Linked DNA regions of Homo sapiens: region 2 is linked to region 1. Evidence: fine-mapped expression QTL. A gene starts in region 1. The other region holds a variant in brackets. All regions are shown on one strand. Distances are between the middles of the regions. Region 1 holds the start of SLC66A1 (solute carrier family 66 member 1). Region 2 overlaps CAPZB (capping actin protein of muscle Z-line subunit beta).

The links. PIP is the estimated chance that this variant, and not a neighbour inherited with it, causes the effect.
Region 2: its variant is fine-mapped to the expression of SLC66A1 in whole blood (INTERVAL, PIP above 0.99).

Annotation. Positions count from the first base shown.
Region 1 is chr1:19,305,942-19,315,701 of GRCh38, forward strand. SLC66A1 (solute carrier family 66 member 1) reads left to right here and starts at 6,385. Exons shown (of 8, transcript NM_001040125.2): 1 at 6,385-6,948. AKR7A2 (aldo-keto reductase family 7 member A2) reads right to left here and starts at 6,203. Exons shown (of 7, transcript NM_003689.4): 1 at 5,886-6,203; 2 at 2,514-2,701; 3 at 2,217-2,321; 4 at 1,373-1,469; 5 at 1,061-1,160; 6 at 77-206. The coding sequence starts at 6,183. RefSeq lists enhancers at 5,794-6,293, 9,508-9,760 and silencers at 5,885-6,524, 6,605-6,694.
Region 2 is chr1:19,384,806-19,401,037 of GRCh38, forward strand. CAPZB (capping actin protein of muscle Z-line subunit beta) reads right to left here. Exons shown (of 9, transcript NM_004930.5): 3 at 700-821. Among named protein-coding and RNA genes, the nearest start is that of SLC66A1, 81 kb to the left of the region's middle. RefSeq lists enhancers at 6,648-6,697, 8,230-8,369. The variant G/A (reference allele first, on the strand shown) is at 8,793.

The sequences.
Region 1 (9,760 bases):
TGCTTTGGGCTTCACCTAAAGGTGACGCTGGTCCCCCTGGAAGGGAAGAAGCTGAGCACCCAGGGTCGCTGGTTACCTGCAGCTGTGAGTGGTGGTACATCCACCGGAGGGCAGCCGAGGTCACACTGGGGGCGCTGGCGCCATATGCGGCCTGCAGGGCCTTCTCCACCAACGCAATGGCCTCGAAGTGGTGCTCCTTCCAGAAGCTGTGCAGAGGGGATGTTAGCACAGGGGTCAGTACCATGGGGGTCACACTGGGAGCCGCAACCAAATAGCCATCCAGGACCACTGCCCCACCCCACACCCTGCAGCCCTGAGGGGCGGGTGTCCTCTCTAGTCATAGGTCTCCCACTTTGCTGGGCATCAGAACCACCCAGGATGCTGGGCCCCTCAGCAGAGACCTCAATGGATCTTTACTCCTGAGGACTCAGTAGCCTAGGGACTTCCCTAGGGACACGAAGGCTGCTCAGATGGGGCAGGATTCCCTCCTGGGCTCTCTTTTTGCTTTTTGATACATGGTCTTACTCTGTTGCCTACACTGGAGTGCAGTGGCATCATTATGGCTCACTGCAGCCTCAACCTCTTAGACTCAAGTAATCCTCCTGCCTCAGCCTTCCAAGTAGCTGGGCTACAGACAGGTGTGCACCACCACACCTGACCACTTTTTTGCATTTTTTTTTTGTAGAGACCATGTTGCCCAGGCTGGTCTTGAACTCATGAGCTCAAGTAACCCTCCCACTTCGGTGTCCCAAAGTGCTGGGATTACAGGTGTGAGCCACCATGCCTGGCCCATCCTGGGCTCGCTTTTTGCTTCCCAGCAGGTGATTGCTCAGGAACGAGCTATGACTTCAAGACCCCAACATCCAGGGATCCTCATTTCCCCCCCAGAGGTCTCAAGACAACAAGAAAACCCACAGAGGGCTTGGGAATTCCTGAAGCAATGCAGGGGAGGAGATGCAAACAGCAAAGGAAGGTCTTACCTCAGGAACAGCCCAGGACTTCATTCCACATAGATTTGACCCCACCCCAGCCATCCTCACCAAGCCCACCCCCGGCTCACCGATTCCTGTAGGTCTCAGCCCAGCTATTCCCAAAGAAGCGGCCCACAGGCTGTTTCCCGTCCTTGTCCTCATACTTGTACTTGCCAGTCAGCAGGCCCCCTGCGGGAAGGCAGCAATCAGCCCCTGGCCCCAGAGTGCCCCAGAAGCTGCCACATCCCTCAGGGCTCTGGTCTAGGGGAGGGGCAGGGACCCAGGAGGGGCTGAAGAACACAGCCCAGCCTCTTGTCAAACCCTCCCTGCTTCATAAATTCTGGGCTGGGCATCTGTGGGTCAGGAATAGGCTGAGACAGGGTCAGGAATGCTCCACGTACCAGCCAGAGGGTTGTAGGCATAGAACCTCAGTCCAAAGTGCCTGAGGCAGGGGAAGAGCTCCGTTTCCACCTGCCGGGTGGTGGCGTTGTACATGCCCTGCAGGGAGAGGGACCCCGGGGACAGGGTGGACATGTCAAGAGAAGGAACTGTTGCCTTCCACTTTCAAACCTCTAAAGCAACACCGGCCCAGGACTTCAGCAATATTCTAACATCACTACTGTTAGTAGGGGATGGAGGGAAGGTGTTGGGCCCAAGGACAGAAAATTGAAGTGGAATGGTATCTTTCCACAAATATCTGCTGTATGAACTCCATGCTGGACACTGGTTACAACCACAAGTAGGTATCACAAAATCCCTGCTTCCAGGAGATGTTTACTCAAGTTTAAAAAAATAGACAAGGAAGGCAGTTAATTACAATAAAGTTAGGTTCTACAATCAAACAAGGAGCTGGAAAGTACTCGCTGAATGTATGAAGATGAGATTTGGAGACTGGAGACTCCTATGGGGCTGTCTAGAAAGGCTTCCAGAGGAGGAGACCTCTATGTAAGGCCTGAGTGCTTCTCCCAGGGAGGAGGGCAGGGGAAATGTGTTCCAGGCTGAAGTATGAAAGGAGGTGGGGAAGGAAGGGTCCAAGGTGCACAGATAGGCAGGAAGGAAGCAGATGCCCAGTGGCCAGGCTGAGGAGCTTGAATGGCATCCTGAGGGTACATGGGAGCCATCTGCAGGCTTTCAGCAGGGGAGTGGCTGCTATGCAGACGGCACAGGGGGCAGTCAGGGGGGCAAAGAGAGCCCAGGATTAGCAGGAGTCCTGGAGACCTTGGCCTCTGCAGCCCCGGCCCTCACCTGGTACACAGTGGGCAGGATCCAGCCATTGCTCTTGCAGAGGGTACAGATCTCGGCCACTTCCCAGCTAGCATAGTTGGAGAGGCCAAGCTCCACGAACTTGCCCTGCATGGGTGAGGCTCCAGTCAGAACGCAGTGTAGCCCAGACCAGGAAGGGGAGGCCAGGGTGGGGCCCCAGGGAATGGGGCTATTCCCTGCCCCACCCTGGGACTGCCCTGGTGCCTCTGCTCTCATGAGTAGGATCAGGATAAAGAAAGGAGCAGGAGCCCACCTTTGGAGCTCGGAGGGCCCCCTCACCTCCTGGTGCAGCCGCTGGCAGGCATGCAGCGTCTCTTCCACCGGGGTGCCGTGGTCAGGTGCGTGTAGGTAGAAGAGGTCCACTTGGGGACACTGCAGCCTCTTCAATGACGTCTCCAGCTGGGACCGGACACTGTCAGGCTTTAGTGATTTTCCATCCCAAGGGTTGGCCTTGGTGGCAATTTTCACTTGGAGAGAGAATGGAATGGTTAAGTGACCTATTAGAGCCATTTGCTAACCATGTAACCCTGGCTAAATTACTAATATTCTCTTGGCCTCAATTGTATGATCTGTAAAATGGGGTGATAATAATCAAACTGTCCTCATTGGGAGGTCCTGGGGATTAAATAATGTCATATATGTGAGTTCTCAATGTTCACCTATTAGAATAACTATCATTAGTCACCAACCTGCTGGCTGTGCCAGGCCTTGCACTAGAGACTGAGTATGCAGAGATGAACTGAACACAATGGATCTCTGCCCTCCTGGAGCCCTAGAGGATGATGGTACAATATGGTAAGCACAGGAGGGAAAGGCACACGATGCCAAGGAGCCCAGATGAGATGCATGAAGCCAACTTGGAGACTCCAGGGAAGGCTTTCTCTAGGGGATCACTCCCAGAGTCCCAGCCAACAAGGAAGAGCAGGAAGTACACTCCAGAGCATGGGAACCCATGCAAAGTCAAAGAGGCAAAAAAACACTATGTGAGGCTCCAAACCTTCAAGTCTAAGTTATAAGAGCATAAATTCTAGAGCAAGGAGCAGTGGGACGTAGGACAAGAGACAGGGACAGACCTCATCCCAAAAGTTCTTAAATACCATCCCACTGAATCTGAACTTGATCATTCCAGATTTTGTCAGGGTGTGAACCGGTCACCTGTGTTCACACTTGGCTGCAGTATAGAGAAAGAAGTCAAGGGGGCAGGCCTGGAAGAGTTTAGGAAAGCGAAGCAGCCACATAAATGTGGCCCAGTGGTAGAGATCAACTTGAGAGCTTAGAAGGCAAACTGAGCAGAATGTAATTATAATTCTCCCCTCCCCTTCCTGACTCACAGAAGCATGAGCATATATCCAAACACTGTAGGGACACATCGCTATGACAACAGTGTTCTGCATCCGAGCAGCTTGGAAATGAGTTAATTCTGCACTATTCTTTCCCCTATAAAGAACCCCAGCTGTTGGTCCAGATGTAGTGGCTCAAGTCTGTAAACCTAGTTTGGGAGTACTTTGGGAGGCTGAGTAGGGAGAATTACTTGAGCCCAAGAGTTTGAGATAATCCTGGACAATGTAGCAAGACCCTCCCTCTACAAAAATAAAAATTAAAAAAGAACCCCAGCTGGGCCAGGAAAGGTAGCTCACGCCTGTAATCCCAGCACTTTCGGAGGCTGAAGTGGGTGGATCACCTGAGGTCAGGAGTTCGAGACCAGCCTTGGCCAACATGGTGAAACTCTGTCTCTACTAAAAATACAAAAATTAGCCAGGCGTGGTGGCACGTGCCTGTAACCCCAGCTACTTAGGAGGCTGAGGCAGGAGAATCACTTGAACCTGGGAGGCAGAGGTTGCAGTGAGTCCAGATTGTGCTACTGCACTCCAGCCTGGGCGACAGAGTGAGACTCTGTGTCAAAAAACAAAAAACAAAACAAAAAAAAAGAACCCCAGCTGTCTGGATTGGTTGGGGGATGGATTCTGCACTTTTCATACTTAGCAAAGTCAGCTCAGTAGCTCAGAAGGGTGTCACGAGATCAGTTGGGATATGGGACAGAACAAGTTCCACAGTTTCTCATCCAGATTTTCTCCATTTCCCCACAACGCCCCAGGCATTCTTGGCATGAACTGTGCCTCAGGCCTGGCCTGAGGACTTTGGTTCAGTGAGCTCCTGGCCCCAAAGACGGAAGCGGGGAAGGGTTAGAGAAGAAAAACCAACTCAGGAACAAAATCTTCATTATTAATAGTATGTAACGTGGCCGGGCGTGGTGGCTTACACCTATAATCCCAGCACTTTGGGAGGCTGAGGTGGGCAGATCACTTGAGGTCAGGAGTTGAAGACCAGCCTGGCCAATATGGTGAAACCCCATCTCTACTAAAAATACAAAAATTAGCTGGGCGTGGCCGTGTGCACCTGTAATCCCAGTTACTTGGGAGGCTGAGGCAGAGGTTGCAGTGAGCTGAGATCGTGCCATTGCACTCCACCCTGGGTGACAGAGCAAGATTCCGTCTCAAATAATAATAATAACAAAAACAACAACATGCAGCCAGGTGAACTAGAAACAGCGTGGGCCTGAGATTCACATTTGCCCTCTTTTCCCCCCGACCCCCCAAGCGCTATGACTCAGGAGGACCCAGAGAGAACCTCTCCTCAGGGGTGGGGAGCAACAGCCTCAGGATAGTCCAGTGGGTGAAGCATGGTAAGGGTAACAGCCCACGTTCCCTGGGCCCTCACTGAGTGCCAGGCACCCTCCCAAGGGCTATCAAGGGCACCAGGCTCACGAGGGACAGTCCCCTCCATCCTCCACTCAAGCCCCACCTGCCCAGTGGCCTTCCTTTCACACATCACGCACATTGCATTTCCAAACCAAGTCTTTGCACAGACTCTAATGTTCCTTTCTCTTGTTCTCCTCCAACCTACCATTGAGCCTTTAAGGCTGAGCTCCATCCAGCATTTGCTGAGCCTTCCCTAGTGCCTCTCCCCGGCCTGCAGCTCCCTAAAGTACTCTCTCTTCTGGGCTCTCCAGCAATCATTACTTCAATCTTCCTCATTAGACTCTGAACTCCCTGTGGAGGGCTGGAATCACTTTCCCTCCTATGGCCCCAAGTCAAAGCCTGGCATAGAGTGGATAGAAAGTCCCTACACCCTGACCCGTCCGCACTCCCTAACACTCCTACTCTCCCAGCCAGCCTTACGGCATCGCCACAGTTCTCCCTGAGAGAGGCAGAGGTACTGCCAGCTGCACAGGTCAAATTCTAGTGGTTAAGAAAAGGCCAGGATGAGAAAAGGGTGCCCAGGGTGTGCATGCGTGATGATGGTAACGAAGGGGTAGAGAAAAGGGGGAGAGCCTGGGTGGGGACCGGTTGTGGGCACCTGGCAGGTTTGGAGGCGGGGGCATCAATGGAGGTGGGAAGCGATGGGTCAGACCAGGCTGGGGGGAGACTCTCGCGCTGCAACTCCCAAGGGAAGGAGAGTGGGGGAAAGGAGTCAGGGCAAAGCACTGTCTAGTTGTCCCGGGGTTCCCAGAGCTGCGGGGTGGACCTGGGGTGGGGAGCGAGGGACGAATCCGTCGGTGCTGCCCGCGGCCGGGCCCGAGCGGGGTGGTGCACGGCTGGGGACAGGCTCAGCTCTACACGATGCATGGGGAGGATCTGCAGCTACTGTTACCTCTGCAGTCGCCACCGCCCAGCCCGAGCCCCAGGCCGCCCAGGATGGTCTCGGACTGGCCGTCGCTGTACATGAAGGCCGTGTCCAGTTCGGTGTGGCCGCGCTCCAGAAAGGCGCGCACGGCCGCGGCGCTGGCGGGCGCGTCCATGCGGCGCCCCATCTCCATGGTGCCCAGCACCGAGGCGACCCGCGGTGGCGGTGGCCGGGACATGGCGAGCGCGCGGGCCTCGGGCGGCGGAGAGCGAAGCGCGCAGTGGACGGCGGCGCGGGAGACTACGCGAGACGCGGCACTCAGCATAGCAGCGGCGCCTGCGCGTTGGGAGCCGGGGGCCCCGCCCATGCCGGGGAGGAGCGCGGAGGCAGTTGGGGGCGGGGACAACAGGCGCGGCCCCAGCGGCGCCTCCAGGCCCGGTCAGCCCAGCGCGCGGCGTGGGGGCGGGGCCTGCGGTTCCCGCGGGGGCGGTGGCGCGCGGTCAGCTGACCCGGCGGGCCTTGACCCAGAAGCTGGGCCCTGGCGGCGGATCTGGACGTGGTGAGCCGGACCGGGGGCAGGTGGCAAACTTCACGGCTGGGGGTCGGGGCTCCTGGGCTTCCCTGCCACATCCTTCCAGCCCTCTCCTCCGGCCGCTGGACTGTCCCGGCTCCTGCGCCCTCCTTGTGGCGCGATATCGTGGGACGAGGCTCCGGGCCGGGACTGGGTGGCCCTCGGGAATCCGCAGCCAGTGGCCCCCCACCTCAAAGGCGACCAGCGCGGCCTCTCGAGCTGGCCTGGCCAGGAGTTGCCCTGCCCCGGCCGACCGGCCCCTTGGCATCTGATGGCTTCGTTTTTCCCGGGCCGGCCGGGCGAGGGGCCCTCGCGGCGCTGGCCCCAGCAGCTGTCCTATCATTATCCCTCCAAACAGGCGGCCCGCGCCGGGCTGAGTCACCAGGAGGGAGCTGTGGCCGAGGACGCCGAGGCCTGGAGTGGGTGGTAGCCCCGAGCTGGGACGCTCCTCCCTCCACAATCTCCCCAGGTCTGCAGGGACCGAGGGCCTACACTGCCTCCTCCCACGCCGTGCTTAGGGTAGGTTTCCAAACGTGTAAATGGAGAGTCTGAGTCTGGAAGTGTGAGGGGTCCCGGGCCTGGGTCACAGGTCATGTCTAATCAACGCTTACTGAAGGCGCCTGTGTGCCCGGACGCTGGAGGGGCTACAATGAGAACAAATAATAGTCATTTTGGGCTGTTGGTGTTGAGTGCCAGTGCCAGGCACCCTTGTAATCGCTTGGCCTGGATTGTCTCATTTAACTCTGCAGTCAGCCTAGGTGGTGGGTATTGCATTATTCCCCTACTTTTCAGATGAGAACTACGAAGCTCAATCACTTGAGTTCCAGACTGGTAGGCATCGGGCAGGTCTGTTCCAGAGTGCTTTTCTCCTCAACCCTGGGCTGTTCGAGCTCACAGCTTTCTCCCCTTCCTTTCTCCTTTCCTTCCTCTTCTCTCTCTTCCACCCTTTCTCCTTTCTCACCCGTTTCCTCTCTTCTTCACTCTGTCCTTCTCTCTACCTCTCTCTTTCTCTCACTGTCTCTCAACATTTGCTGAACCTCTAGGTGTGTTTACACCTGGAGAATAAGAAATGCACAACCCAGGGTGGGGAGAGTACGTTTCAAAGACAGTGGTCGCAGAGGACGGTGGTAGCGTTCTTCAGGTGTGTGGACAAGGGGAGAGGAGGAGGTGGAAGGTCCTGTCCAGCCAGCTCTCATGGGGCATCTTTGAAAGGGCAATTTAGAAGTGAGTCTTCTTATCTCATGACCAGGCCCTTGAAGGGGAGCAGGACACTTCTAGGGGAAGAGATGGCACGTGCAGAAGCCTGGAGACCTGAAATGACTGAAGACGTGGGTCAGGAGGCAGGAGATAAGGTTGGGAGGGCAGTTCTTGGAGTAACTTGAGGCCTAGCCTCAGGTAATTTGGACTTCATCCTGTAGACAAAGGTGGACACATGATTGGCTGTGATCATGTGCCCGAAGCACCCTGACTCAGCTTGGGATCAGGGAGAGGAGTTTGGGTGTGGCAGGAGATGTCATCTCCAGCCCAACCTTTCTCAAAGTGCACTAGATGGAGCAGAATCGCTGGAGGGCTTCTTAAACCCAGAATCTCTAAGCCCCAGCCCAGGTGCACTGACTCCAAATTTTGAACATGCACCCTCCAAGGGTGATTCCAGGGTACCGCTTCTGGGGTCCTTCCCATCCCTGCAGGTGAGGTCAAGCTCCATTGCAACCTTGGACATCCATTTGCTCAGAGCTGTTTGAACAGGATGTGGGCCCATGCCTGGCTTCTAGGTGACAGGAACTACGCAGGATGGCCCTCAGAGCCAGGCCTTTCTGTTCAGGGATCAGGTGTGTCTCAGAGTGTCCCGAGCTCCACATTGCACATGGGTCCTGTCCAAGGTCAGGGGGACACCCACCCAGTATCCTGGATCCATAAACCAAGGTACCTTCCTCAAGACAACTCCCCAACACGCACGCATACTGGGGTGCATCCATTTCATTTCCTCCTTAACCTAGGGAAAGGGGGAAGTGAGAGAGAGGCCGCAGGGGCCATAAACCAAGGTACCTTCCTCGAGACAACCCCCCAACACACACATGCTGAGATGTGTCCATTTCATTTCCTCCCTAACCTGGGGAAAGGGGGAAATGAGAGGGAGAGTCCCCAAGGTGGTTGAGATGCTGGACTCTCATCCTGAAAACAGTCGCTGCCATGTGTTGTCAGGCACAGGGCTGAGAGCTTTATGTGCATTTAGTCAGGGCAGCTGCCCCAAGGAGTGAGTGTCGTTAGCCCCATTTTATGGACAGGCTCAGGCAGGTTAATTCACTTCCAGGGCTGCTCAGCCTCACCTGTCAAATGAGCACAGTATACCCAACCTTGCTGGGGAGTGGTGAGGATGGCAGTGGATGAGCTGCAGCCTTGTGTTCAGACTCTGCAAGGGGGTGTGGGGGTGCACCCCAGTTGGCAGTGGTGGCTGAGAACATGAGGACTTGATTTGAAATGCCTTTGGCCTTGCAAACGTGTAGTTCTCACCTGGACTATATGGTTTTTTTTTTGTTTGTTTGTGTTTTGTTTTGTTTTTGAGAGTCTTGCTCTGTCACCCAGTTGGAGTGCAATGGCGCGATCTCAGCTCACTGCAACCTCTGCCTCCTGGGTTCAAGTGATTCTCCTGCCTCAGCCTCCTGAGTAGCTGGGATTACAGGCACGCACCCACCACGCCTGGCTAATTTTTGTATTTTTGATAGAGATGGTGTTTCACCATGTTGGCCAGGCTGTTCTCCAGCTCCTGAGCTCAAGTGATCCAACTGCCTTGGCCTCCCAAAGTGCTGGGATTACAGGTGTGAACCACTGCGCCCGGCCACACCTGGACTATATGTTAATTTGGAGTGGCCTTTCAGGGGCCGGAGATGGAGCATCAGGTGAAGGCTTCCAACATCATCTGTGCTGATGGTCCCCCAGGTGGGCCACGAAGACACAGGGAAGAGGCTTTCAGCCTCCCTGCCTGTGCCAGGCCCTGGAGGTAGTCCAGTGAGCTGGGCTGACAGTGACCTGGGGCACCCTTACCTTTAGGTCCAGGGTCTCTGCCCACAGCGAGTCACATTAGGGCTGAGGGTCTACGGCTTCCTGAGAGGAGGTGCTGACTCACTTCCTTTCCCTCCCGGTGCTCCCTGGTCTCTGTGTCCTCAGCAGTTCCGTGGGGCCAGCCAGGGACTAGCTGGGGAGCCCAGGCCTCCTGACACAAGTGGGAATGAAGGCAGCTAGAGACAGCCCCCACCTGGATGAGGAAATCCCCTCTGAGCACAGGGAAAAAAGAGGAAGCCCACTTTCTGGCTGTGCAGTCATGCCAGACCAC
Region 2 (16,232 bases), 82 kb after region 1:
CCTACATGCCCTTAAAACCCAGCTCAGACATCACCTCCTTCAGGAAGTCCTCCTGGAGTTGACCATGGCCTCTTCTGTGCTACCGTCCCACCCTGAACAGACTTTGCACTGGCTGTATGAATCACATCATACAGTTACCAGTTACCCAATGTGTCTCCTATGCTAGACCTGGTGATCAGACACCCAGGGCAGGGACTAATGTCAACTTAGTTATTTACAGCCTTGGGCGAGGTGACGGAAAGAGAGAGGAGAGTTGTGTATCTGACAGAGCTGCGTTCGTAGATCCCTTACCACAGAGACCCTCCCAGCCCTCAGGATCCCCATCATATGCGCACCCTGTACACTGCCCTCCGCAGGACTGAATGCAATTATAATAGAACAGTTGTTTTTGAACAACATCCCTCTCCCGTTAGACTGGAAGATCCATGAAGGCAGGGGGCCTTTGGTCCGCTGCTCTATCTCTCATGCTTGTGGGTGGCACTCTTCAAACGTCTGCTGCATGATTGGAATAACAGATGGAACGATGAGAAGAATGGGGAGGACAAGAGAAGAAAGGAGAGGAGGGCAGGGAACAAACGGAAGGAAAGCTGAATGGGCTGCCAGCTGCCCAAGTCCAAGGTCCCCGTGCTCTGCAGCAGGTACCTACGGCAGCCCGCGTGTGCCTGCTGTGCCTGCTGCATCCCCGGGGCATGAGCTCACCTATAGGAGTCCCCATCTCTGTTGTAGTCACACAAAAGGTAATCCTTTCCCACCACCTTGTCTCTGGCAATTTTCAGTGGCTGGTCAACAGAAGACAGGAGATCCTCACATAGACTGGGGACCTGGCAGAGAGAAAGGACAAGGTCGAAACAGAGGTTAAAACAGCACACCAAACTCAGGTGGCTAACAATACTGCAGCCATATTGTGGTCAGTACCTTTAACATCTGGCCCTGGGCACTGAGACAAAATTATGGGCCTGTTCTTTTCTTTTCCACATGTGTCTGACACCAACTGTGTCCCTCTATAAAGAAACCCATTCTTGAATTACAGTGGAGCGTGATTTCTAATACAGTCTTCCTTCCAAAAACTGTGTGCAGCTTTAATTACCTGGTCACCAGGGTGGCCTAGTAAATTTAAGTGTGTATGTGCTTGGTATTGGTCTCTGGTGGGCAAAGTACAAGCTGAAGTCCCGAGAAGAAGGTAAACATTTCAAATACACAGGAATCTAAAGAACTCGGAGTAGAAAAACTCGTCCGTGCCGGGAACTCCCACAGGCTCCTATGCTGGGTGGAGTCTCCAGTACTTTCCAGGCCCCTAGCCAAGTGTTACCAGTTGGCTTGTAGAGTCAACTCTATCTGCTGCAAAGAGAGCTTCACCCCGGCTCCCCCACAGCACAGAGCCCCAGTGGGCTCACCTCCGGCTGGCCTGCCAGGGGGCCGCCTCACCAAGAAAGATGACCCCGCGGTCGGGGGCTGGCAGGACTCAAACTCTGGGCCAATGTTGCGACTCTGACACAAGGCTCTGCAAGTAACCAGGCCACTGGCCTCCTCCTCCCAACTCAAACATCAATTTCTACCAAAATATCCCAGAAAGGGATGGCAGCACTTTCAGAAATGGATTCCTTCAGGCCTGAGTCACTTCCACGCTATATTTTCAATGTGCTGACTTATTTGTTTCATGGGCCTGGGTTTATGGGGGCTCCACCATATCGTTTACCAGGAAAGTGCCTGCCAGTTGCACCAATAACCCTTCCCAGTGGAAAAATTCCATCGTATGGCAAAGACACCAGCAGAGCAGCTCAGCAGACGGGCTGACAGCGACAGTGGTTCCTGTGTTCTTCCAGAAGGCCCTTGCCACCATCCAAGAGACAGGCAGGGACAGGGAGTCCCACCACCACAGGGACCACCCAGCCTCCACGGGCTCCTCTGCTGCCCCTCCAGGGTGCTTTAGAACTCAGCTTGGAAAGCAACGCCCAGCACAACTAAAGGACTGTAACCCTGCCTCATAACTCACAGAAATTCTGGCCTTGGTGAGATGATCTGTTTCTTATACAGGGGACAGTACCCAAAGAGATAGACATACACCACCAACCCCTGTGTACAATGTGCTGGGCTTACAGGTGTGAGCCCCCAGGCCTGGCCTGTACCTGTGCTTGTTTTCAGAATTCTTTCTCCATGTGTATCTGCCCTTTCCTAACAAACATAATAAAAATGGGGGCTACTTTCAAAGTTGGTTTTGGTGATAATATCATGCACCTTACCATTTCCATGTGCCTGCCATGCACCACGCACTATGGTAGAGCATATTGTTGACTTGAAAGCTCACACGCATTCTGCAAAGTGGGTATGCAAAGCCCCATTTTACAGATTAGAGTTGAGGCCGGGAGCCATAAAGTTACCCAAGGGCCACACAAGAAGCAAGCAGTGGAGACAGAAAACAAAACCAGGGCCAGATGAGTCCAAAGTCCCTACTCCTCCTACTCTAACTTTGGTTTAATGTCCAGCTAAGGGGAAGGACAGTGCATGCTAAAGGCACCCTCTGGTGGCAAACAGCCCTCTCCTAGCCCCAGCCCTGCTTAGCTGTGGCCACAGAGCCCTTCAACTGGAAGGAAGTCCTGGCTGAGGAAGGAAGGTCTAACAGCTTCCACCCGAGGCCATCTGGGACCTGAAAGAGGCCTTGCTGTGCTGCCACAGCCAATGAAGCCACCTCACCTAACACATCATGCCTGTCCCTAAGCATCTCTGTTTATAATGCTGGGATGCTGCCTTGGCTTATCTGTTGGGCCTCAACTTTTGCCTGGAACCCATTCTCTCTGGTTGGAGTCCTGACACCATCAGCTCAATTTTTCCTCAATTACAGTAGAGACTGAGCAAACAGGGTCTGAAGTTAGACCTCCTGACTCCGCTGCGTACAAGTAGCCTTATGGCCTGGGTAAGTCATTTTACTTCTCTACTAAGACTTGGTTTCCGTACCTGTAAAATGGGGATAATAAAACCAACCCATCTGGGTGCCCATGCCCATGTGATTTTGAGGACCCACATGACACAATGCATTCCGTGTTCAGGGCAGAGCCTGGCACAGGGAAATGCACGTATGTTACTGCCTGACACGTTCAGGTTCCTTTCCCTTCCTTTAGACAATATCATCTGTCACCTGTTACTCTCAGATGGCAACAATAGCCTGGATCATACCTGAATTCACTGTGCTGCTTCAGACACAGGGTACAAACGTACCTGTGAGGATCCGGTGCTTCACCCCAGTTCCACCTGGAGCCAGCTGTTTCCCTTCTCCTGCCAGGCACACTGCTTGCAGCTAAGTCCCCTCAACGTAGGAAAGCTCACAAGAAAATAGGGTTTGGTATAAAAGAGGCTTGACTCTACTCCTATCCAAGAGATTCATCTATGAATCGAAAGCATCTGAGTAATCTCTTCCTAGCACTTAACACCAGGTGGAGTATTTTTTCATTGATCAGTTATCTGTATCCCTCACTAGAATGTAAGTTTTACTGGGGCAAGGACTTCGATCTTACTCACTGCAGGATTCTCAGTGCCTGTGGCTGTGCCTGACACACAGCAAATGCTTAATATATTTGGGAGGAAGGAAAGAAAGGAGGGAAAGAGGGAGGAAAGGAGGAGTTTTACAACACGGAGCCTCCCAAACTCCAATCAACTTTACTTTAAAATTAATAAATTGGCAGGTAATAGGAATCTTTAGCAAAAGCACTTGTCCAGAACTAAATCTGAATGGATGCTGATGACAAGTTTCCTGTGTGGTTCCAACCCAGCACTCTCAGATATGAACCATGGTATGGTGGGAAAGCACTGAACAAAGAGAACCGGAGCTGTCATGAAAGCCCTGGCATTTTTTATTAACATATGACCTCAAGGAGCCACAGCATTGGTGGAAAGAGTGAGAACTAAGAGACCTGGGTTCTAGCCTCTGCTCTGCTGTGAGCTGGCCACGGAACCTTAGGCAAAGCCCAAGACTGTTCATTTGTCAAACACAGTAGATGAGCTGCACGGAGACAGACCACCCTTGAAGATCTGTGATGGGACTTCTGAAAGCCAGTATGCCAGGTACTAACCAACCCCAGAAAAACATACATTTAAACTGGAACTCAAAAACTGGCACTGCTTGTCCTACAGTGAAAAGCCTCTGGGACTTGATATGGCCAACGGACTCCACCCAAGCAGGCACCATTTTTGCCTTTTGGATCAACTCTTAAGCTGGGCCATAGTTTTGGCCATATTTCCATCAGCGCTGTTTCTTTTGATCAAAGATAATCTGCTCTGGAATAATAACATTTTCGTTGTCATGGGGAATGAGAAATGTGGAATAATACATGGTGTGCCCACAGACTTGGACCACAGCAGCTGCCCAAAGGTGCATTAGTCACGACCTGGCACCATCACTGATCCCGTCTCATACCCACGCCGTCCCTCCACCTCTGCCCGAAACTCCTCAAACAACCACACGGTCCCATTCACCACTCCCTGAACATGCACGTGCATTCCCCCACTTAAACATCTTCCCCATTGAGGGTTGCTGGATAAAACAGAGGGAGGCCAGTTCAGTCTGAATTTCAGATACACAATGAATAACATTTTAGTATGACTACTTCCTAAAGGTTACATGGGTCGTGTGTTTTTTTTTTCTCAATGAGATGGAGTCCAGCTCTGTCACCCAGGCTGGAGTGCAGTGGCGCGATCTCGGCTCACTGCAAGCTCCGCCTCCCAGGTTCATGCCATTCTCCTGCCTCAGCCTCCCGAGTAGCTGGGATTACAGGTGTGTGCCACCACGCCCAGCTAATTTTTCTATTTTTAGTAAAGATGGGGTTTCACCACGTTAGCCAGGATGGTCTCTATCTCCTAACCTCATGATCCACCCACCTCGGCCACCCAAAGTGCTAGGATTACAGGTGTGAGCCACTGCGCCTGGCCAGGCCATGTATTTTTATTTGCTAAATCTGACAGCCAATCCCCACTGCTCTCTTAAATCTTACTGATCCTTCAGGGCCTGGCCCAAACTCCAACTTCTTTATCAAGATGTCAAATTCTTCAGAATTCCTGCAGTAACACTAATATCAACTGAATCCTAAATGCTTTGGGGATGGCTGTTCTAATACTGCCAATGACTTTCACCTTACTCCTTCCTCACCACTTAGCATTTTTCATTGTGAATTGACTCCACACCTACAGAGGCCAAGACAGGCCCTCCAGCCTCAGCGCAGCATCACGCCCGCTGCAGCAGGGATCAGTCAATGCATGCTGATTCCATGTAAGTGGATATTAATCCTGTGGTCTGAGGCCATATTACAGAACCAGAATGAAGGCAGTGTATCTCTGTAATCTAACCAGTCCCTACACTCATCTGAACCCCGGCCCCCGCCCCCTACTCATGTCGAGTGCTTAGAGCAGTGGAAGAAATCACATTAAGTGTCACAGACCATGGGTTTGTACAGTGATTTAAATGAAACGACAGGTCCAAACAAAGCCGAGAGTTCACTTTGGGGTGCATGTGGCACTGGCTCTGTCGCCTCCAAAGCCAGGGAGGGCCTCTGAGGAGGAGGAGCGGTGCTGACACGCGGCAGCCGGATGGTTTCTGTCTAAACCACCCATCTGAACTGCCTAACGGCCTTGGAGGGAAGGTTCAGATAACACCAAAGGTGTCAGACCAATCCAGGCTGTTGGGGGGATTTAAACATAATTCCCAGTGACTTGGAATAATAAACACTACACTGGTCAGGACAGTGCCTGCCGTCTTTCTGGTGGGAGTTCAGGGCTCCACCAGTTCCTCTGCTGCCACAGGAGTGTGCCCACCCCAGGGAGCAGGAGCCACAAGTCCTTCACCACCGATACTTTTGCCGGGCTCGGTGGTACCCAGGAGGCCACTGGAAAGACGGGTGGGGAGTGGGTAAAGTGAACTAGGGCAGGGAAAAGAAAAAACCCCAGAAGGTAGAAGGTAAGGGAGAGACTAGGATGCCATTGGCAACGGCCTCAGGTGACACCTGAATAATAATCCGTGGAAGGACCAGGTGATCGTAATAGCCCTGCCCTGCGTGGCAGGCACTATGCTAGCAGCTCTCCCTGCCCTTCCCTATGATCCTGACAATGGCTCTTCACACAGACACGCACTCCAGTCCTTGTTTTAAAGAAGGGGAAACAGGGCCTTAGAGAAATAACTTGACCGGAGCCACGCAGCTACGGGCCAATGTCTGAGGAAGGACATGCAGTTATATACAGCACAGCTAGGTTCAAAAAGAAACTGCTTTTCCCAAACTGAACACTTTTTTTTTTTCTTAAATCATCCAACCCAACAGCTGATCACACGAAGAGATACAAATCAGAAGTTTCCGGCCACAAGTGAGGTTCGTGTTTGTGCCGCCATATGGTTCTACTTTGCCTCTTCCTCTTCTCCATTAGTTATTAATGTTGAAAAAAATTGTTCAACCAGAAAAAGAAACTTGAGATGAACCCTTAAAAAAAGCACAAAAGCCAGAGCAGCTCAGACCCACGGAGTCTAACCCACGGCGCCCTTGTCTTTAAGAAGTGCACCCTTGTACCTCGGTTTTTTAAAAAATGGCCAAATGAACACATTCCATCTTTTGATCTGCCTGTTGGCCGAGAGCCCACCACCAGCAAGATAGGAATCAAAAACAGATTCTGCGTACTTGGGTGCACTCAGAGGAAACTGCCACGCCAGAATGCTGCAGCTGCCGACGTCCAGCAGAGGGCTCTGTGACAATTTGTTCCTTTTATTTTTCCAGAAGGCCCAAAACTTTCTTAAAAAGATAAAAGAGCATTTCAAGTGGCACATACACTCGTGTCAGAAACAAAATATACAGTGTGGCATTCTGTAAAAACACCAACCTCGAAACCGAACAGGTTCAAATCCTCGGTCAGTCACTTGCTGGCTGAGTGTAACCTTCCTAAGTCTCTGGAACTGGGGGTTACAACATCCATGTCAAGGAGAAATTCACACTGTTCCATAAACCCCGAATGCCCGCTCCAGGCCCGTGTCAGGTGCAAGGGCTCAGCACGGGAAGAGATGGACATGGGCGGCCCTGCTCTGACAGCAAAGTCCAGCCACAGAGGCATCTCCAAGAGGCAAGGGTAGGCCAGGCATGGTGGCTCACGCCTGTAACCAGCACTTTGGGAGGCTGAGGAGGGTGGATCACTTGAGTTCAGGAGTTCAAGACCAGCCTGGCCAATGTGGCAAAACCCCATCTCTACTAAAAATATACAAAAATTAGCCAGGTGTGGTGGTGCATGCCTATAATCCCAGCTACTCAGGAGGCCGAAGCAGGAGAATCACTTGAATCTGGGAGATAGAGGTTGCCGTGAGCCAAGACTGTGTCACTGCACTGTAGCCTGTGCGACACAGAGAGACTCTGTCTCAAGGTAAAAAAAAAAAAAAAAAAAGAGGCAGGAAGCGAACCTGCAGGAGACGACAGAAGGGGGTTGCTGTGGGGGCAAGTCAGCAGTCTAGGAGGTGGCACAGAGATGACATGTGAATAATGACCAAGGAGCCGGCCCTCCAAGACTGCAGGGAAAAATAACAGGGGCATCCCAAGAAGAGGGAAGAGCTGGCATGAGGCTCTGCTGCAGAGGCCACTGAGGCAAGTGCAAGAACAGAGAGGAGCAAAGCGCGGCTGGAGTGAGACCCAGTGAGGCAGCACGCAGCACCTCCTGGGTCACTCCAAGTGTGAGGGCAGGCCCTGGCACACTGCTTTTCTTAAGAATTAAAAAAAAAAAAAAAAAAAGGCCAGCTGCGGTGGCTCGCTTGAGATCAAGAGTTCGAGACCAGCCTGGGCAACAGGGCAAGACTCCGTCCCTACTAAAATAATAATAATAAAAATAGCCAGGCATGGTGGCATGTTCCTGTAGTCCCAGCTACTCAGGAGGCTAGGGTGGGAGGATTGTTTGAACCCGGGAAGTCGAGGCTGCAGTGAGCCGTGTTTGCACCACAGTACTCCAGCCTGGGTGACAGAGTAAGAACCTGACTCAAGAAAAAAAGTGTTTACTTATGTATAATAGGTAATACATTCACATAGGTCAGAATTCAAAAAGGTACAAGAGCACATGCTGGGAAAGGCCTCCCAGTGAGGGCCTGCAAGCTGGCTGTCCTCGCCTAGGGAGATGGCCTCCAGGTCAGGATCCCTTCAGTGGGGCTCCCTTCACCGGTCTGTCCAGATGGACACATGGCCTCCACCAGCCTATGAGAGATGCAGGAATCCCCACCCCACCACCACTACTTAGTGTAGAGAAAACACAAGCCTGCTCCCCAACTCCCCAAGGGCAGCTTCGTTACAGGGACCCCAGTTTGTCATTAGGAACACTGAGCCACGGAAGCACAGCTTCATGTAGCCGAGGCTGGAGCTTCCGACCCATTTTGCCTAATGGCTCTCTGAGCATGGCCACCTCTGCAATGAGAAGGCACCTGCACAGGCGGCAGCTTCGCGCCGGGCCTGAAAGTCACACCCGGGTGGCCAAGCTTGTTTTTGGACGGGAAGCAGCTGTGCTCCCAGAGACTCAGGCAAGTGGTACCCCTGAGTAACCAGAGGGGGACCCCAGGGGCTCCCGCTCACCCCAGGAAGCATCAAAACATATCTCCTTAGGATAATAGCCACGTGAGCTAGGGTATGGCGCACCTATTCGGAGGCAGGATTGAGGGCACCCCCCAACCTGTGGATGAGAAAACCCAGGCACGGGGAAGCTGCTGGCCCCGGCTGTCCCAGCCAACACGAGGTGGAGAGGAATGAGAATCTCAATTTGAGACTGACCCAGCTCTTCCAAAGACCAGGCCCCACCGG[G/A]TCAACAAGGCGAGCTGCCCCCATCCCCAGTCAGGCTCAGGGGACAGGGGAGGAAAAAAGAATAGAATTGGGGGAATTATGGGACTGTGAGGACCAAAGCTTTTTCCCCCAAGTGCCCGGTCACGGCAGACCCAAGGTGCCTGGGGTCGCCTGGGAAGGGCTGCAGGGCTGGGCTCTCCTGCCCCTCACCACAGCCCACAGCCCACAGCAGATCCGACATGTGACCTTTCCACTCTGGGCCTCGGGGACTCCTGGCGTGTGGGCAGGGGCTCAGTGCCTACTGCCCAGCAGAGCCTAGTGAGAAACTGGCCCCCCGCCTGCCAGGGCCACACACAAGAGGACACTTCCAGGTCCAGCCTCTCTCCTCTTTAAGAAGTCACTTGGCGCTGAGGGCCATATTTTTTTGTTTTGTTTTGTTTTTGAGACGAAGTCTCGCTCTGTTGCCCAGGCTGGAGTGCAGTGGCGCGATCTCGGCTCACTGCAACCTCTGCCTCCCAGGTTCAAGTGATTCTCCTGCCTCAGCCTCATGAGTAGCTGGGATTATAAGTGTGCACCACCATGCCCAGCTAATTTTTATATGTTTATAGAGATGGGGTTTCACCATGTTGGCCAGGTTGGTCTCAGGTGATCCGTCCTCCTTGCCCTCTCAAAGTGCTGGGATTACAGGCATGAGCCACCGCGCCTGGCCAAGGGCCATATTCTTTAAGTGCAAGCACAGCCTGCTTTCTTCCTGTGAAGGCTGTAAGTTGTAAGATGCACCAGTAATTATAACATCGCTAAGTGTACACATTAAGTGTAAGAAGCAATTTCCCAATTTTGGCAACATTAAAACGCAAGCGATGGCTGGGCACAGTGGCTCACGCCTGTAATCCCAGCACTCTGGGAGGCTGAGGTGGGCGGATCACCTGAGGTCAGGAGTTTGAGACCAACCTGGCCAACATAGTGAAACGCTGTTTCTACTAAAAATACAAAAATTAGCCGGGCGTGGTGGCGCAGGCCTGTAATCAGCTACTTGGGAGGCTGAGGCAGAATTGCTTGAATCCAGGAGGCGGAGGTTGCAGTGAGCAGAGATCGCGCCACAGCACTTCAGCCTGGGTGACAGAGCAAGACTCTGTCTCAAAATACAAAACAAAACAAAACAAACAAACAAAAAAAGTGAGCAAGCCACGCAACATAGATTTGAGATAATGGTACATACAGCACATCTGGCGGAGTAACACAGATGTTTCTGACTTAAGATTTTTTTGATTCTGCGATAGTATTCAGTAGAAGCTGTAGTTTGAATTTTGATCTTTTCCTGGGCTAGCGATGCACGGTCTGATCCTCCCTCATGACGCAGGGAGACAGCAGCTCCCACAGCTCCCCACAAGCCCTGTGATCAAAAAGGTGAGCGATGACACTCTACAGCCACCGCGCGCCAGGTGCTTTCACCAAACTGTAGGTGTGTTCTGAGCACATTTAGGGTCAGCCAGCCTAAGCCACGACGCTTGGCAGGTTAGGGGGATTAAAAGCATTTTCTACTTCCAGTGGATTTTTCGTCACGTAACCCCTTCGAGGGTGCAGCAGCATCTGTACCTGCTCATATGAGGCACATGACTCAAGGCGGGGGTTGTGGTTGGTTACCTAGGGTTTAATACAACTGAGGCTGGCCGAGAGGGCCAACATTAGGAAGCCATTTTTGACCAACAAATGATTTATTCTACTTAGAAATGAGTCTTCCACATGCCATTAACAACAAAGAGCTTTTTCAGGAAACGGTAAGTCCCCTCCATCTCTTTCTTTTCTCAGACAGGTGCCCTGACCATCCAGAGATAAATAATAAACAAAAGCAGGCCTCCTGGGCTCGCTTTCAGCCATTCATACTCCAAACCCCAAAGCTTTGCCCTCTGGAATCTCACAGCCTGGAAGGGGCCACAACGGTTTCCTAAAGAAAGGGTCAGGAAGGGGCAGAACAAAGAAGACAAATGGAAAGGAGAAATGAAAATCACTACATTTGGGTCAACCACAGGCACACACAAGGCTCCTGTTGTCCACATGTAACCTTAAGCTTCCCTGAAGGGGATGAACCAGGCCCTCGGAGCCTAATTAAATGAACCATTTCCTGGCCAGGCACACAACCCATCACCTGTGTGCAGAGAAGCCAGGGTCTCTCTAAGCTCCCGGCTGCTTTTAATTAAGGACTCGTCCCTGAGAGATGAAGCACAACATACAAAACCACCTTCGAGTCACCAGAATGGAAGTCATCTTGGACTTAGTGCTGAGAACTGCCTGCAGCCGGCCAGCCAGCCGGCAGGAGAAGCTGCCGCCTACAGCCAGGCGATGGCCTCAGGCTAAGGAGCACAGGGAGGCTCCCCTGACTCAGGCTTGCCCCACACCCAGCATCCTGCATGTCTATCCAGACCACCTTTCTTCCCCGTGTTCCACCTAAGTCATCCTTCAGGGTCTGATTCGGCCACGCCTGCCTCTTCCACTGCAACCTCCCAAAGCCGCGACGGCAGAGGCCGTTGCCCCGCCTCTACTCCTGCACCCTGTGCAGGATGCGGTCTTGAGCCTCACAGGTTTGTGACATGCATGTGTCTCCCCAGGGCAGTGATGAGCTGTCTGGACGGCCTCATGCCCGGCTTGATGCTGGCAGGACTTCTGAAGCGTTGGTGGGATGGTGTGGGATGGTGGAAAACTAGGGCCACTTGGGTCAGGTTCTGATCTTTTGAAGCCCAAGCCTGCCTTGGTGGGAAGCAAGTTCTCAGCACTCTTCAGCACCTCCCTTAAAGGAGGGACTATTCTTCGGTGAGTGGGAGACAGACCGAAACTTGACGTGGATGGCATTTCATCTTCCTGACTGCCAGCCCTGAGTTGGATGAAGGTGTGCACCCACTGGGCGTGGGCTGCCGCCTGCTGTGGAGCTGCCGCTGCCCCTCGTACCCTACACAGGCTCCTCCTAAAGCCAGACCCGCAGCCTTCCCAGCATGAAGGCAAGCACGGGGTAGCTGCTGTTCTCTTCCCGGACGGTCCTCAGTCCTCGGTCCAGCTTTCTCAGTCCACATTTTTATTAAGGATTATTGGCCAGACGCAGTGGCTCATGCCTGTAATCCCAGCACTTTGGGAGGCCGAGGCAGGAGGATCACTTGAGGCCAGGAGTTCGAGACCAGCCTGACCAACACGGTGAAACCCCACCTCTAATAAAAATACAAAAAAAAAAAAAAAAAGAAATTAGGCACTGTGGCGAGCACCTGTAATCCCAGCTACTCAGGAGACTAAGGGAGGAGAATCGCTTGAACCTGGGAGGCGGAGGGTGCAGTGAGCCGAGATGGCGCCACTACACTCCAGCCTGGGTGACAGAGAGGACTCTGTCTCAAAAAATTAAAAAAAAAAAGATTATCGTATTGGCTTGTATTCTTCTGTCACCTGAAATCTTTTTGGGAAAAGACCAGGTAAAAATACACAAACATAACTCATATATAAGTTGATTTTTCTCCAAAGACACTGTAATTTCACAGAGGATCTCTGTCCTCTCGTTTAAGTGAAAAGATACATAGTGAAACCAAATTTTTGTTCTCGTCAACATTTTAATGAAACATTATTCAAGGGCCTGCTGTAGGTCATAATTCCCAAGAACCTATGGACAACATTAAGTGAGGACTTACTGAACTATCAAAGTTATGATTGGAATAACAGCAAAGATGTTTAGGTCTTACCATTTAAAAGGCATGTAACACACATCCTCATTTTATCATCACAGCAACCCTGCAGAAGGCAGGGGTGTTATTATCCCACATTACTGTTTACAGGTGAAAAAAAGAGGCACAGGTAGGTTAAGCAACTTGGCTATGGTCACACAGCAGGTAATTCAATGAAAGCCATGCGATCCCACCCTAAGGCCGTGCGGACTCTAGAATGACACCTGGTGAGTAACCTAGCAGGCAAAATAATTCAGCTGAAAGAGTCACCAGCTGGATGGTGGCAGAGAGAAGTACTTGGCAAGATTGGTTTTTCACACAAGGTCAACGCGAACGGAACCTCTCATACCAGCCACCTACTAGGGTACAGCATCAAGACCTAATTTCAGGGAGGGAAATGGGAAATGCATCCATTTCATCATCACTGGATACTAAGGGTTAGGCCTGGCCTCAGGCTTTATAAACCACATGTGTGCCAAATGTCCACGTCTAAACCTAGAGTTTAGGGTGAAAACTATGAATGGGCTACCATGGAAGTTACAAAATAAGAATGCAGGGGGAAGCCTGAGGGCGCGCGCCACCCGAATGCGGGAGGAGCCAGATGGGGCAGCATAGGAAGGGCTGTTCTTTACCACTGATCTGGGGGGCTCATGATCGCCCAGAGGGACAGACCAACAGCATCGGGGTCTGTGGGTTGATATTCATCTGCACGTCGACACTGGTGGGGATGCCAGGGAAATCTCACATGTTCTGTTTAGCAGAAACGAGACACCTGAGGCAGAAAGTGACAATAAGGAGTCACACGGCCAGGCAACCATGGGCAATGGCAACGCAGGGGATACTTTAGAATCTGAAAGCCTGTGAAACACCCTCAAGTCCGAGAGGATCTGCTCCATGATGAGGAACTCCGTGACCTCCAGGGCCCACACACGGAGGTGAGCCACAGTCATCCTGCCACACCTGCTCAGTCTCCCGATGAGCCAGGCGAGGTGCTGAGCCCTGTACTCCTCGCCCCAGGGGTCCTGATAGCCCCTTGGGAGGCGAATGACCTTTGAAGCCACAGCAGAGGCTGACCAGCTCAGAGCACGGAGCCACTGAGTCAGAGGGCGGAGGTCTGGCTTCCTCCAACAGATTCTCCAAAAATCCTCACGATCACAAGCTTCTAAACCTCCATGACCTACCATGATTCCAGTAATACTTCTGTTTCCCTTCAAGTGGGAGTGTTTGTGCCATGTTTACGTGTCTGAGTGGGGGAGCGGGTGCTAAGGCAGACTCAACAAGTCGGGTTGCTTCGCTGTTCTCAGCACAAAAGTCACCCAGGCTGTCTGGCCACAATGTTTCACACTGGATTCCTTCCACTGGAGGGATGTCTCATCAGGTTTTGCTGTAATTTCACTGAGTCACCCATAGAAACGACCAAGCAGGGGAGACTGGAGGGGACATCTCCAGGGGGCCACATCTGAGCTGAGTTACAGAAAGTGAGGCAGGGCTGGCAGTTAGGGCAGGTCGCAAAGCAGCCCAAGGACTAAGGTGCAGACAGAGAGCATCTCTGTCTGTCAAAGGCAGACAGCGTGGGATGCCGAATGCTGATAGCTGCACAACTCTTTTTTTTTTTTTTTGTCACCCAGGCTGCAGTGCAATGGAGCGATCTCGAGTACCGCAACCTCCGCCTCCCAGGTTCAAGCAAGTCTCCTGCCTCAGCCTCCCGAGTAGCTGGGACTACAGGTGCTTGCCACCATGCTTGGCTAATTTTTTTATTTTTTAGTAGAGACAGGGTTTCACCATGTTGGTCAGGCTGGTCTTGAACTCCTGGACTCAAGTGATCCGCCTGTCTTGCCCTCCCGAAGTGCTGGGATTACAGGCATGAGCCACCATGCCCAGCTAGCTGCACAACTCTTGCGTGTGCTAAAAACCATTGGACCGTACACTTTAAAAGTGTAAATGTTATGTTATGTGAATTATATCTCCAGAAAGCTGTTGTTAAGAAGGTGAATCAAGAGAGGATATTTTAGGCAGAGAGAACCACATGGATCCAAGACATCACAGGTAGACATCCAGGAAACCAACAGTTTCAGAATACGAGTACGTCATGTGACCCAGAGTTAGGTTGGTAAAAAGTGACCCTGGGTGTCAGGAACCATGGGCAGTGTTGTCTTTCTCCTCACTCTCAGTCGTAGCTGTTTGACTCTTCACTCTTACTACCCAGAGCTTTTCCTACATCAAAATAAACCAAGGTACTGCAGGGACTTGCCACTGGCCTGGAAGTCAGAGCTGGTTCTGCCATGAAACGGTGCTACATGGGGCATGGGCCACAGCTCCCTGGTCTCTGCAATGGATGGTTCTCTGAGAGAGGAGCACTTTGAGGGCTGTGAGTACAGAGGGAGGAGCTCAGGGTGTCAAGAGTGGGAGAGGAAGTCTGGGCCTACCACCTTCTACCTGGTTTATTCAAGTTCTAAGATTTTGCTTAAAAAAAGGGCTGTACCAATTTTCCAAATGTTTGAAAACCACTAGATGAGATAATCGGTAAGGTTCATTTTAGTGTTGACATCCTACGAAGTTTCATAGTTCAAGACTTGAGAGTTACTCAAAAGTTTGTGTCATCCCTCCTAAAACAAACCTTTACTAAGCAAGGTACTCTGAGGCTCAAACCAACTGTGGACTGCCCAGCTCTTCGGTTCACAGCCTTAGGACACAGATGCAAGCAGCTGAGTGAGTTATTCACAAGAAGGGGAAGAAGGAAAAGGCTTGGAACCCATAATCTTCTCCCCTGAATGCCATGTTCAAATTTAAACTCTTAGGGAATTTCTATATTTGTATACAGAATCCAAATTCCCTTCTCTTTTCTCTTCCAGGAGAGATTCCGAGCCCACCCCTTGCCTGCCTCCGAGACCTCAACACCATCCTGCTTACTAAAGGGAGCCCAGTTTTTCCCGCTACCCATGGCACAGGTCTTCGTCAATTTCAGTGTGCCCTTCATGAATCTGGCATGTGGTCACTGGCAGTTAAAGGGGGTGATGATGGAGAGGAGAAACCCCAGGCTCCAACTACAAAACCCTGCGGGACACGCAGGCTCCTCTGGGCTTCCCGGCCCACATTCCTGGCCTATTTCAAACATCAGGGAAGCAGACTGAGCGTGCCATGCCCTCCTCAAGTATTTTTAACCTGTTTCCAAAACCAGACATGTTCTAAGGGGGGCGACCCAGGAATTCCTCATCCAGGGCCAGTGCCTGCCAACCGCGAGATGTTGGCTTTCTAACAGCTCTGAGGAGGGAGTTGTTGTCTGCCTTTTCTGGCACGTGGGGAAGTGGGATCTCTCTCCAATTCACTTTTACGTCTCACATTTCTCATCAACCAGAGGGCAGGATCTAACTTAAAGTGAGAGTCTTCAGACCATCCTCAATGGAAGCTCTCCAAACACTGTTCTCCGGCTTCCAACAACAACAGGAGTCCATAAGGTTCCCCAAATGAAGGACCTGGATAGATCTTGTAGGAAAAAAAATCCTATGAGGACAAGGCCAAGGAACGGGCCTATATGCACTTCACTTGAATTATGCCTCCTGGCTCTAGGTGACAAGAGCCATCTTTTTCACCACTGGAGAGCTCAGCCTCCTACCACCTTGCCCCGATCCTGACCTGGTTCAGATTCCTCGCTAACATACTTCTCTCACCTTGTAGCACTGTTGCACATTGAACAGGAGGGAAAAGCTCTTTTGTTCATTTTCCTTAGAATGGAACCAAAATGATACTCCAGTAGCTCCATCTA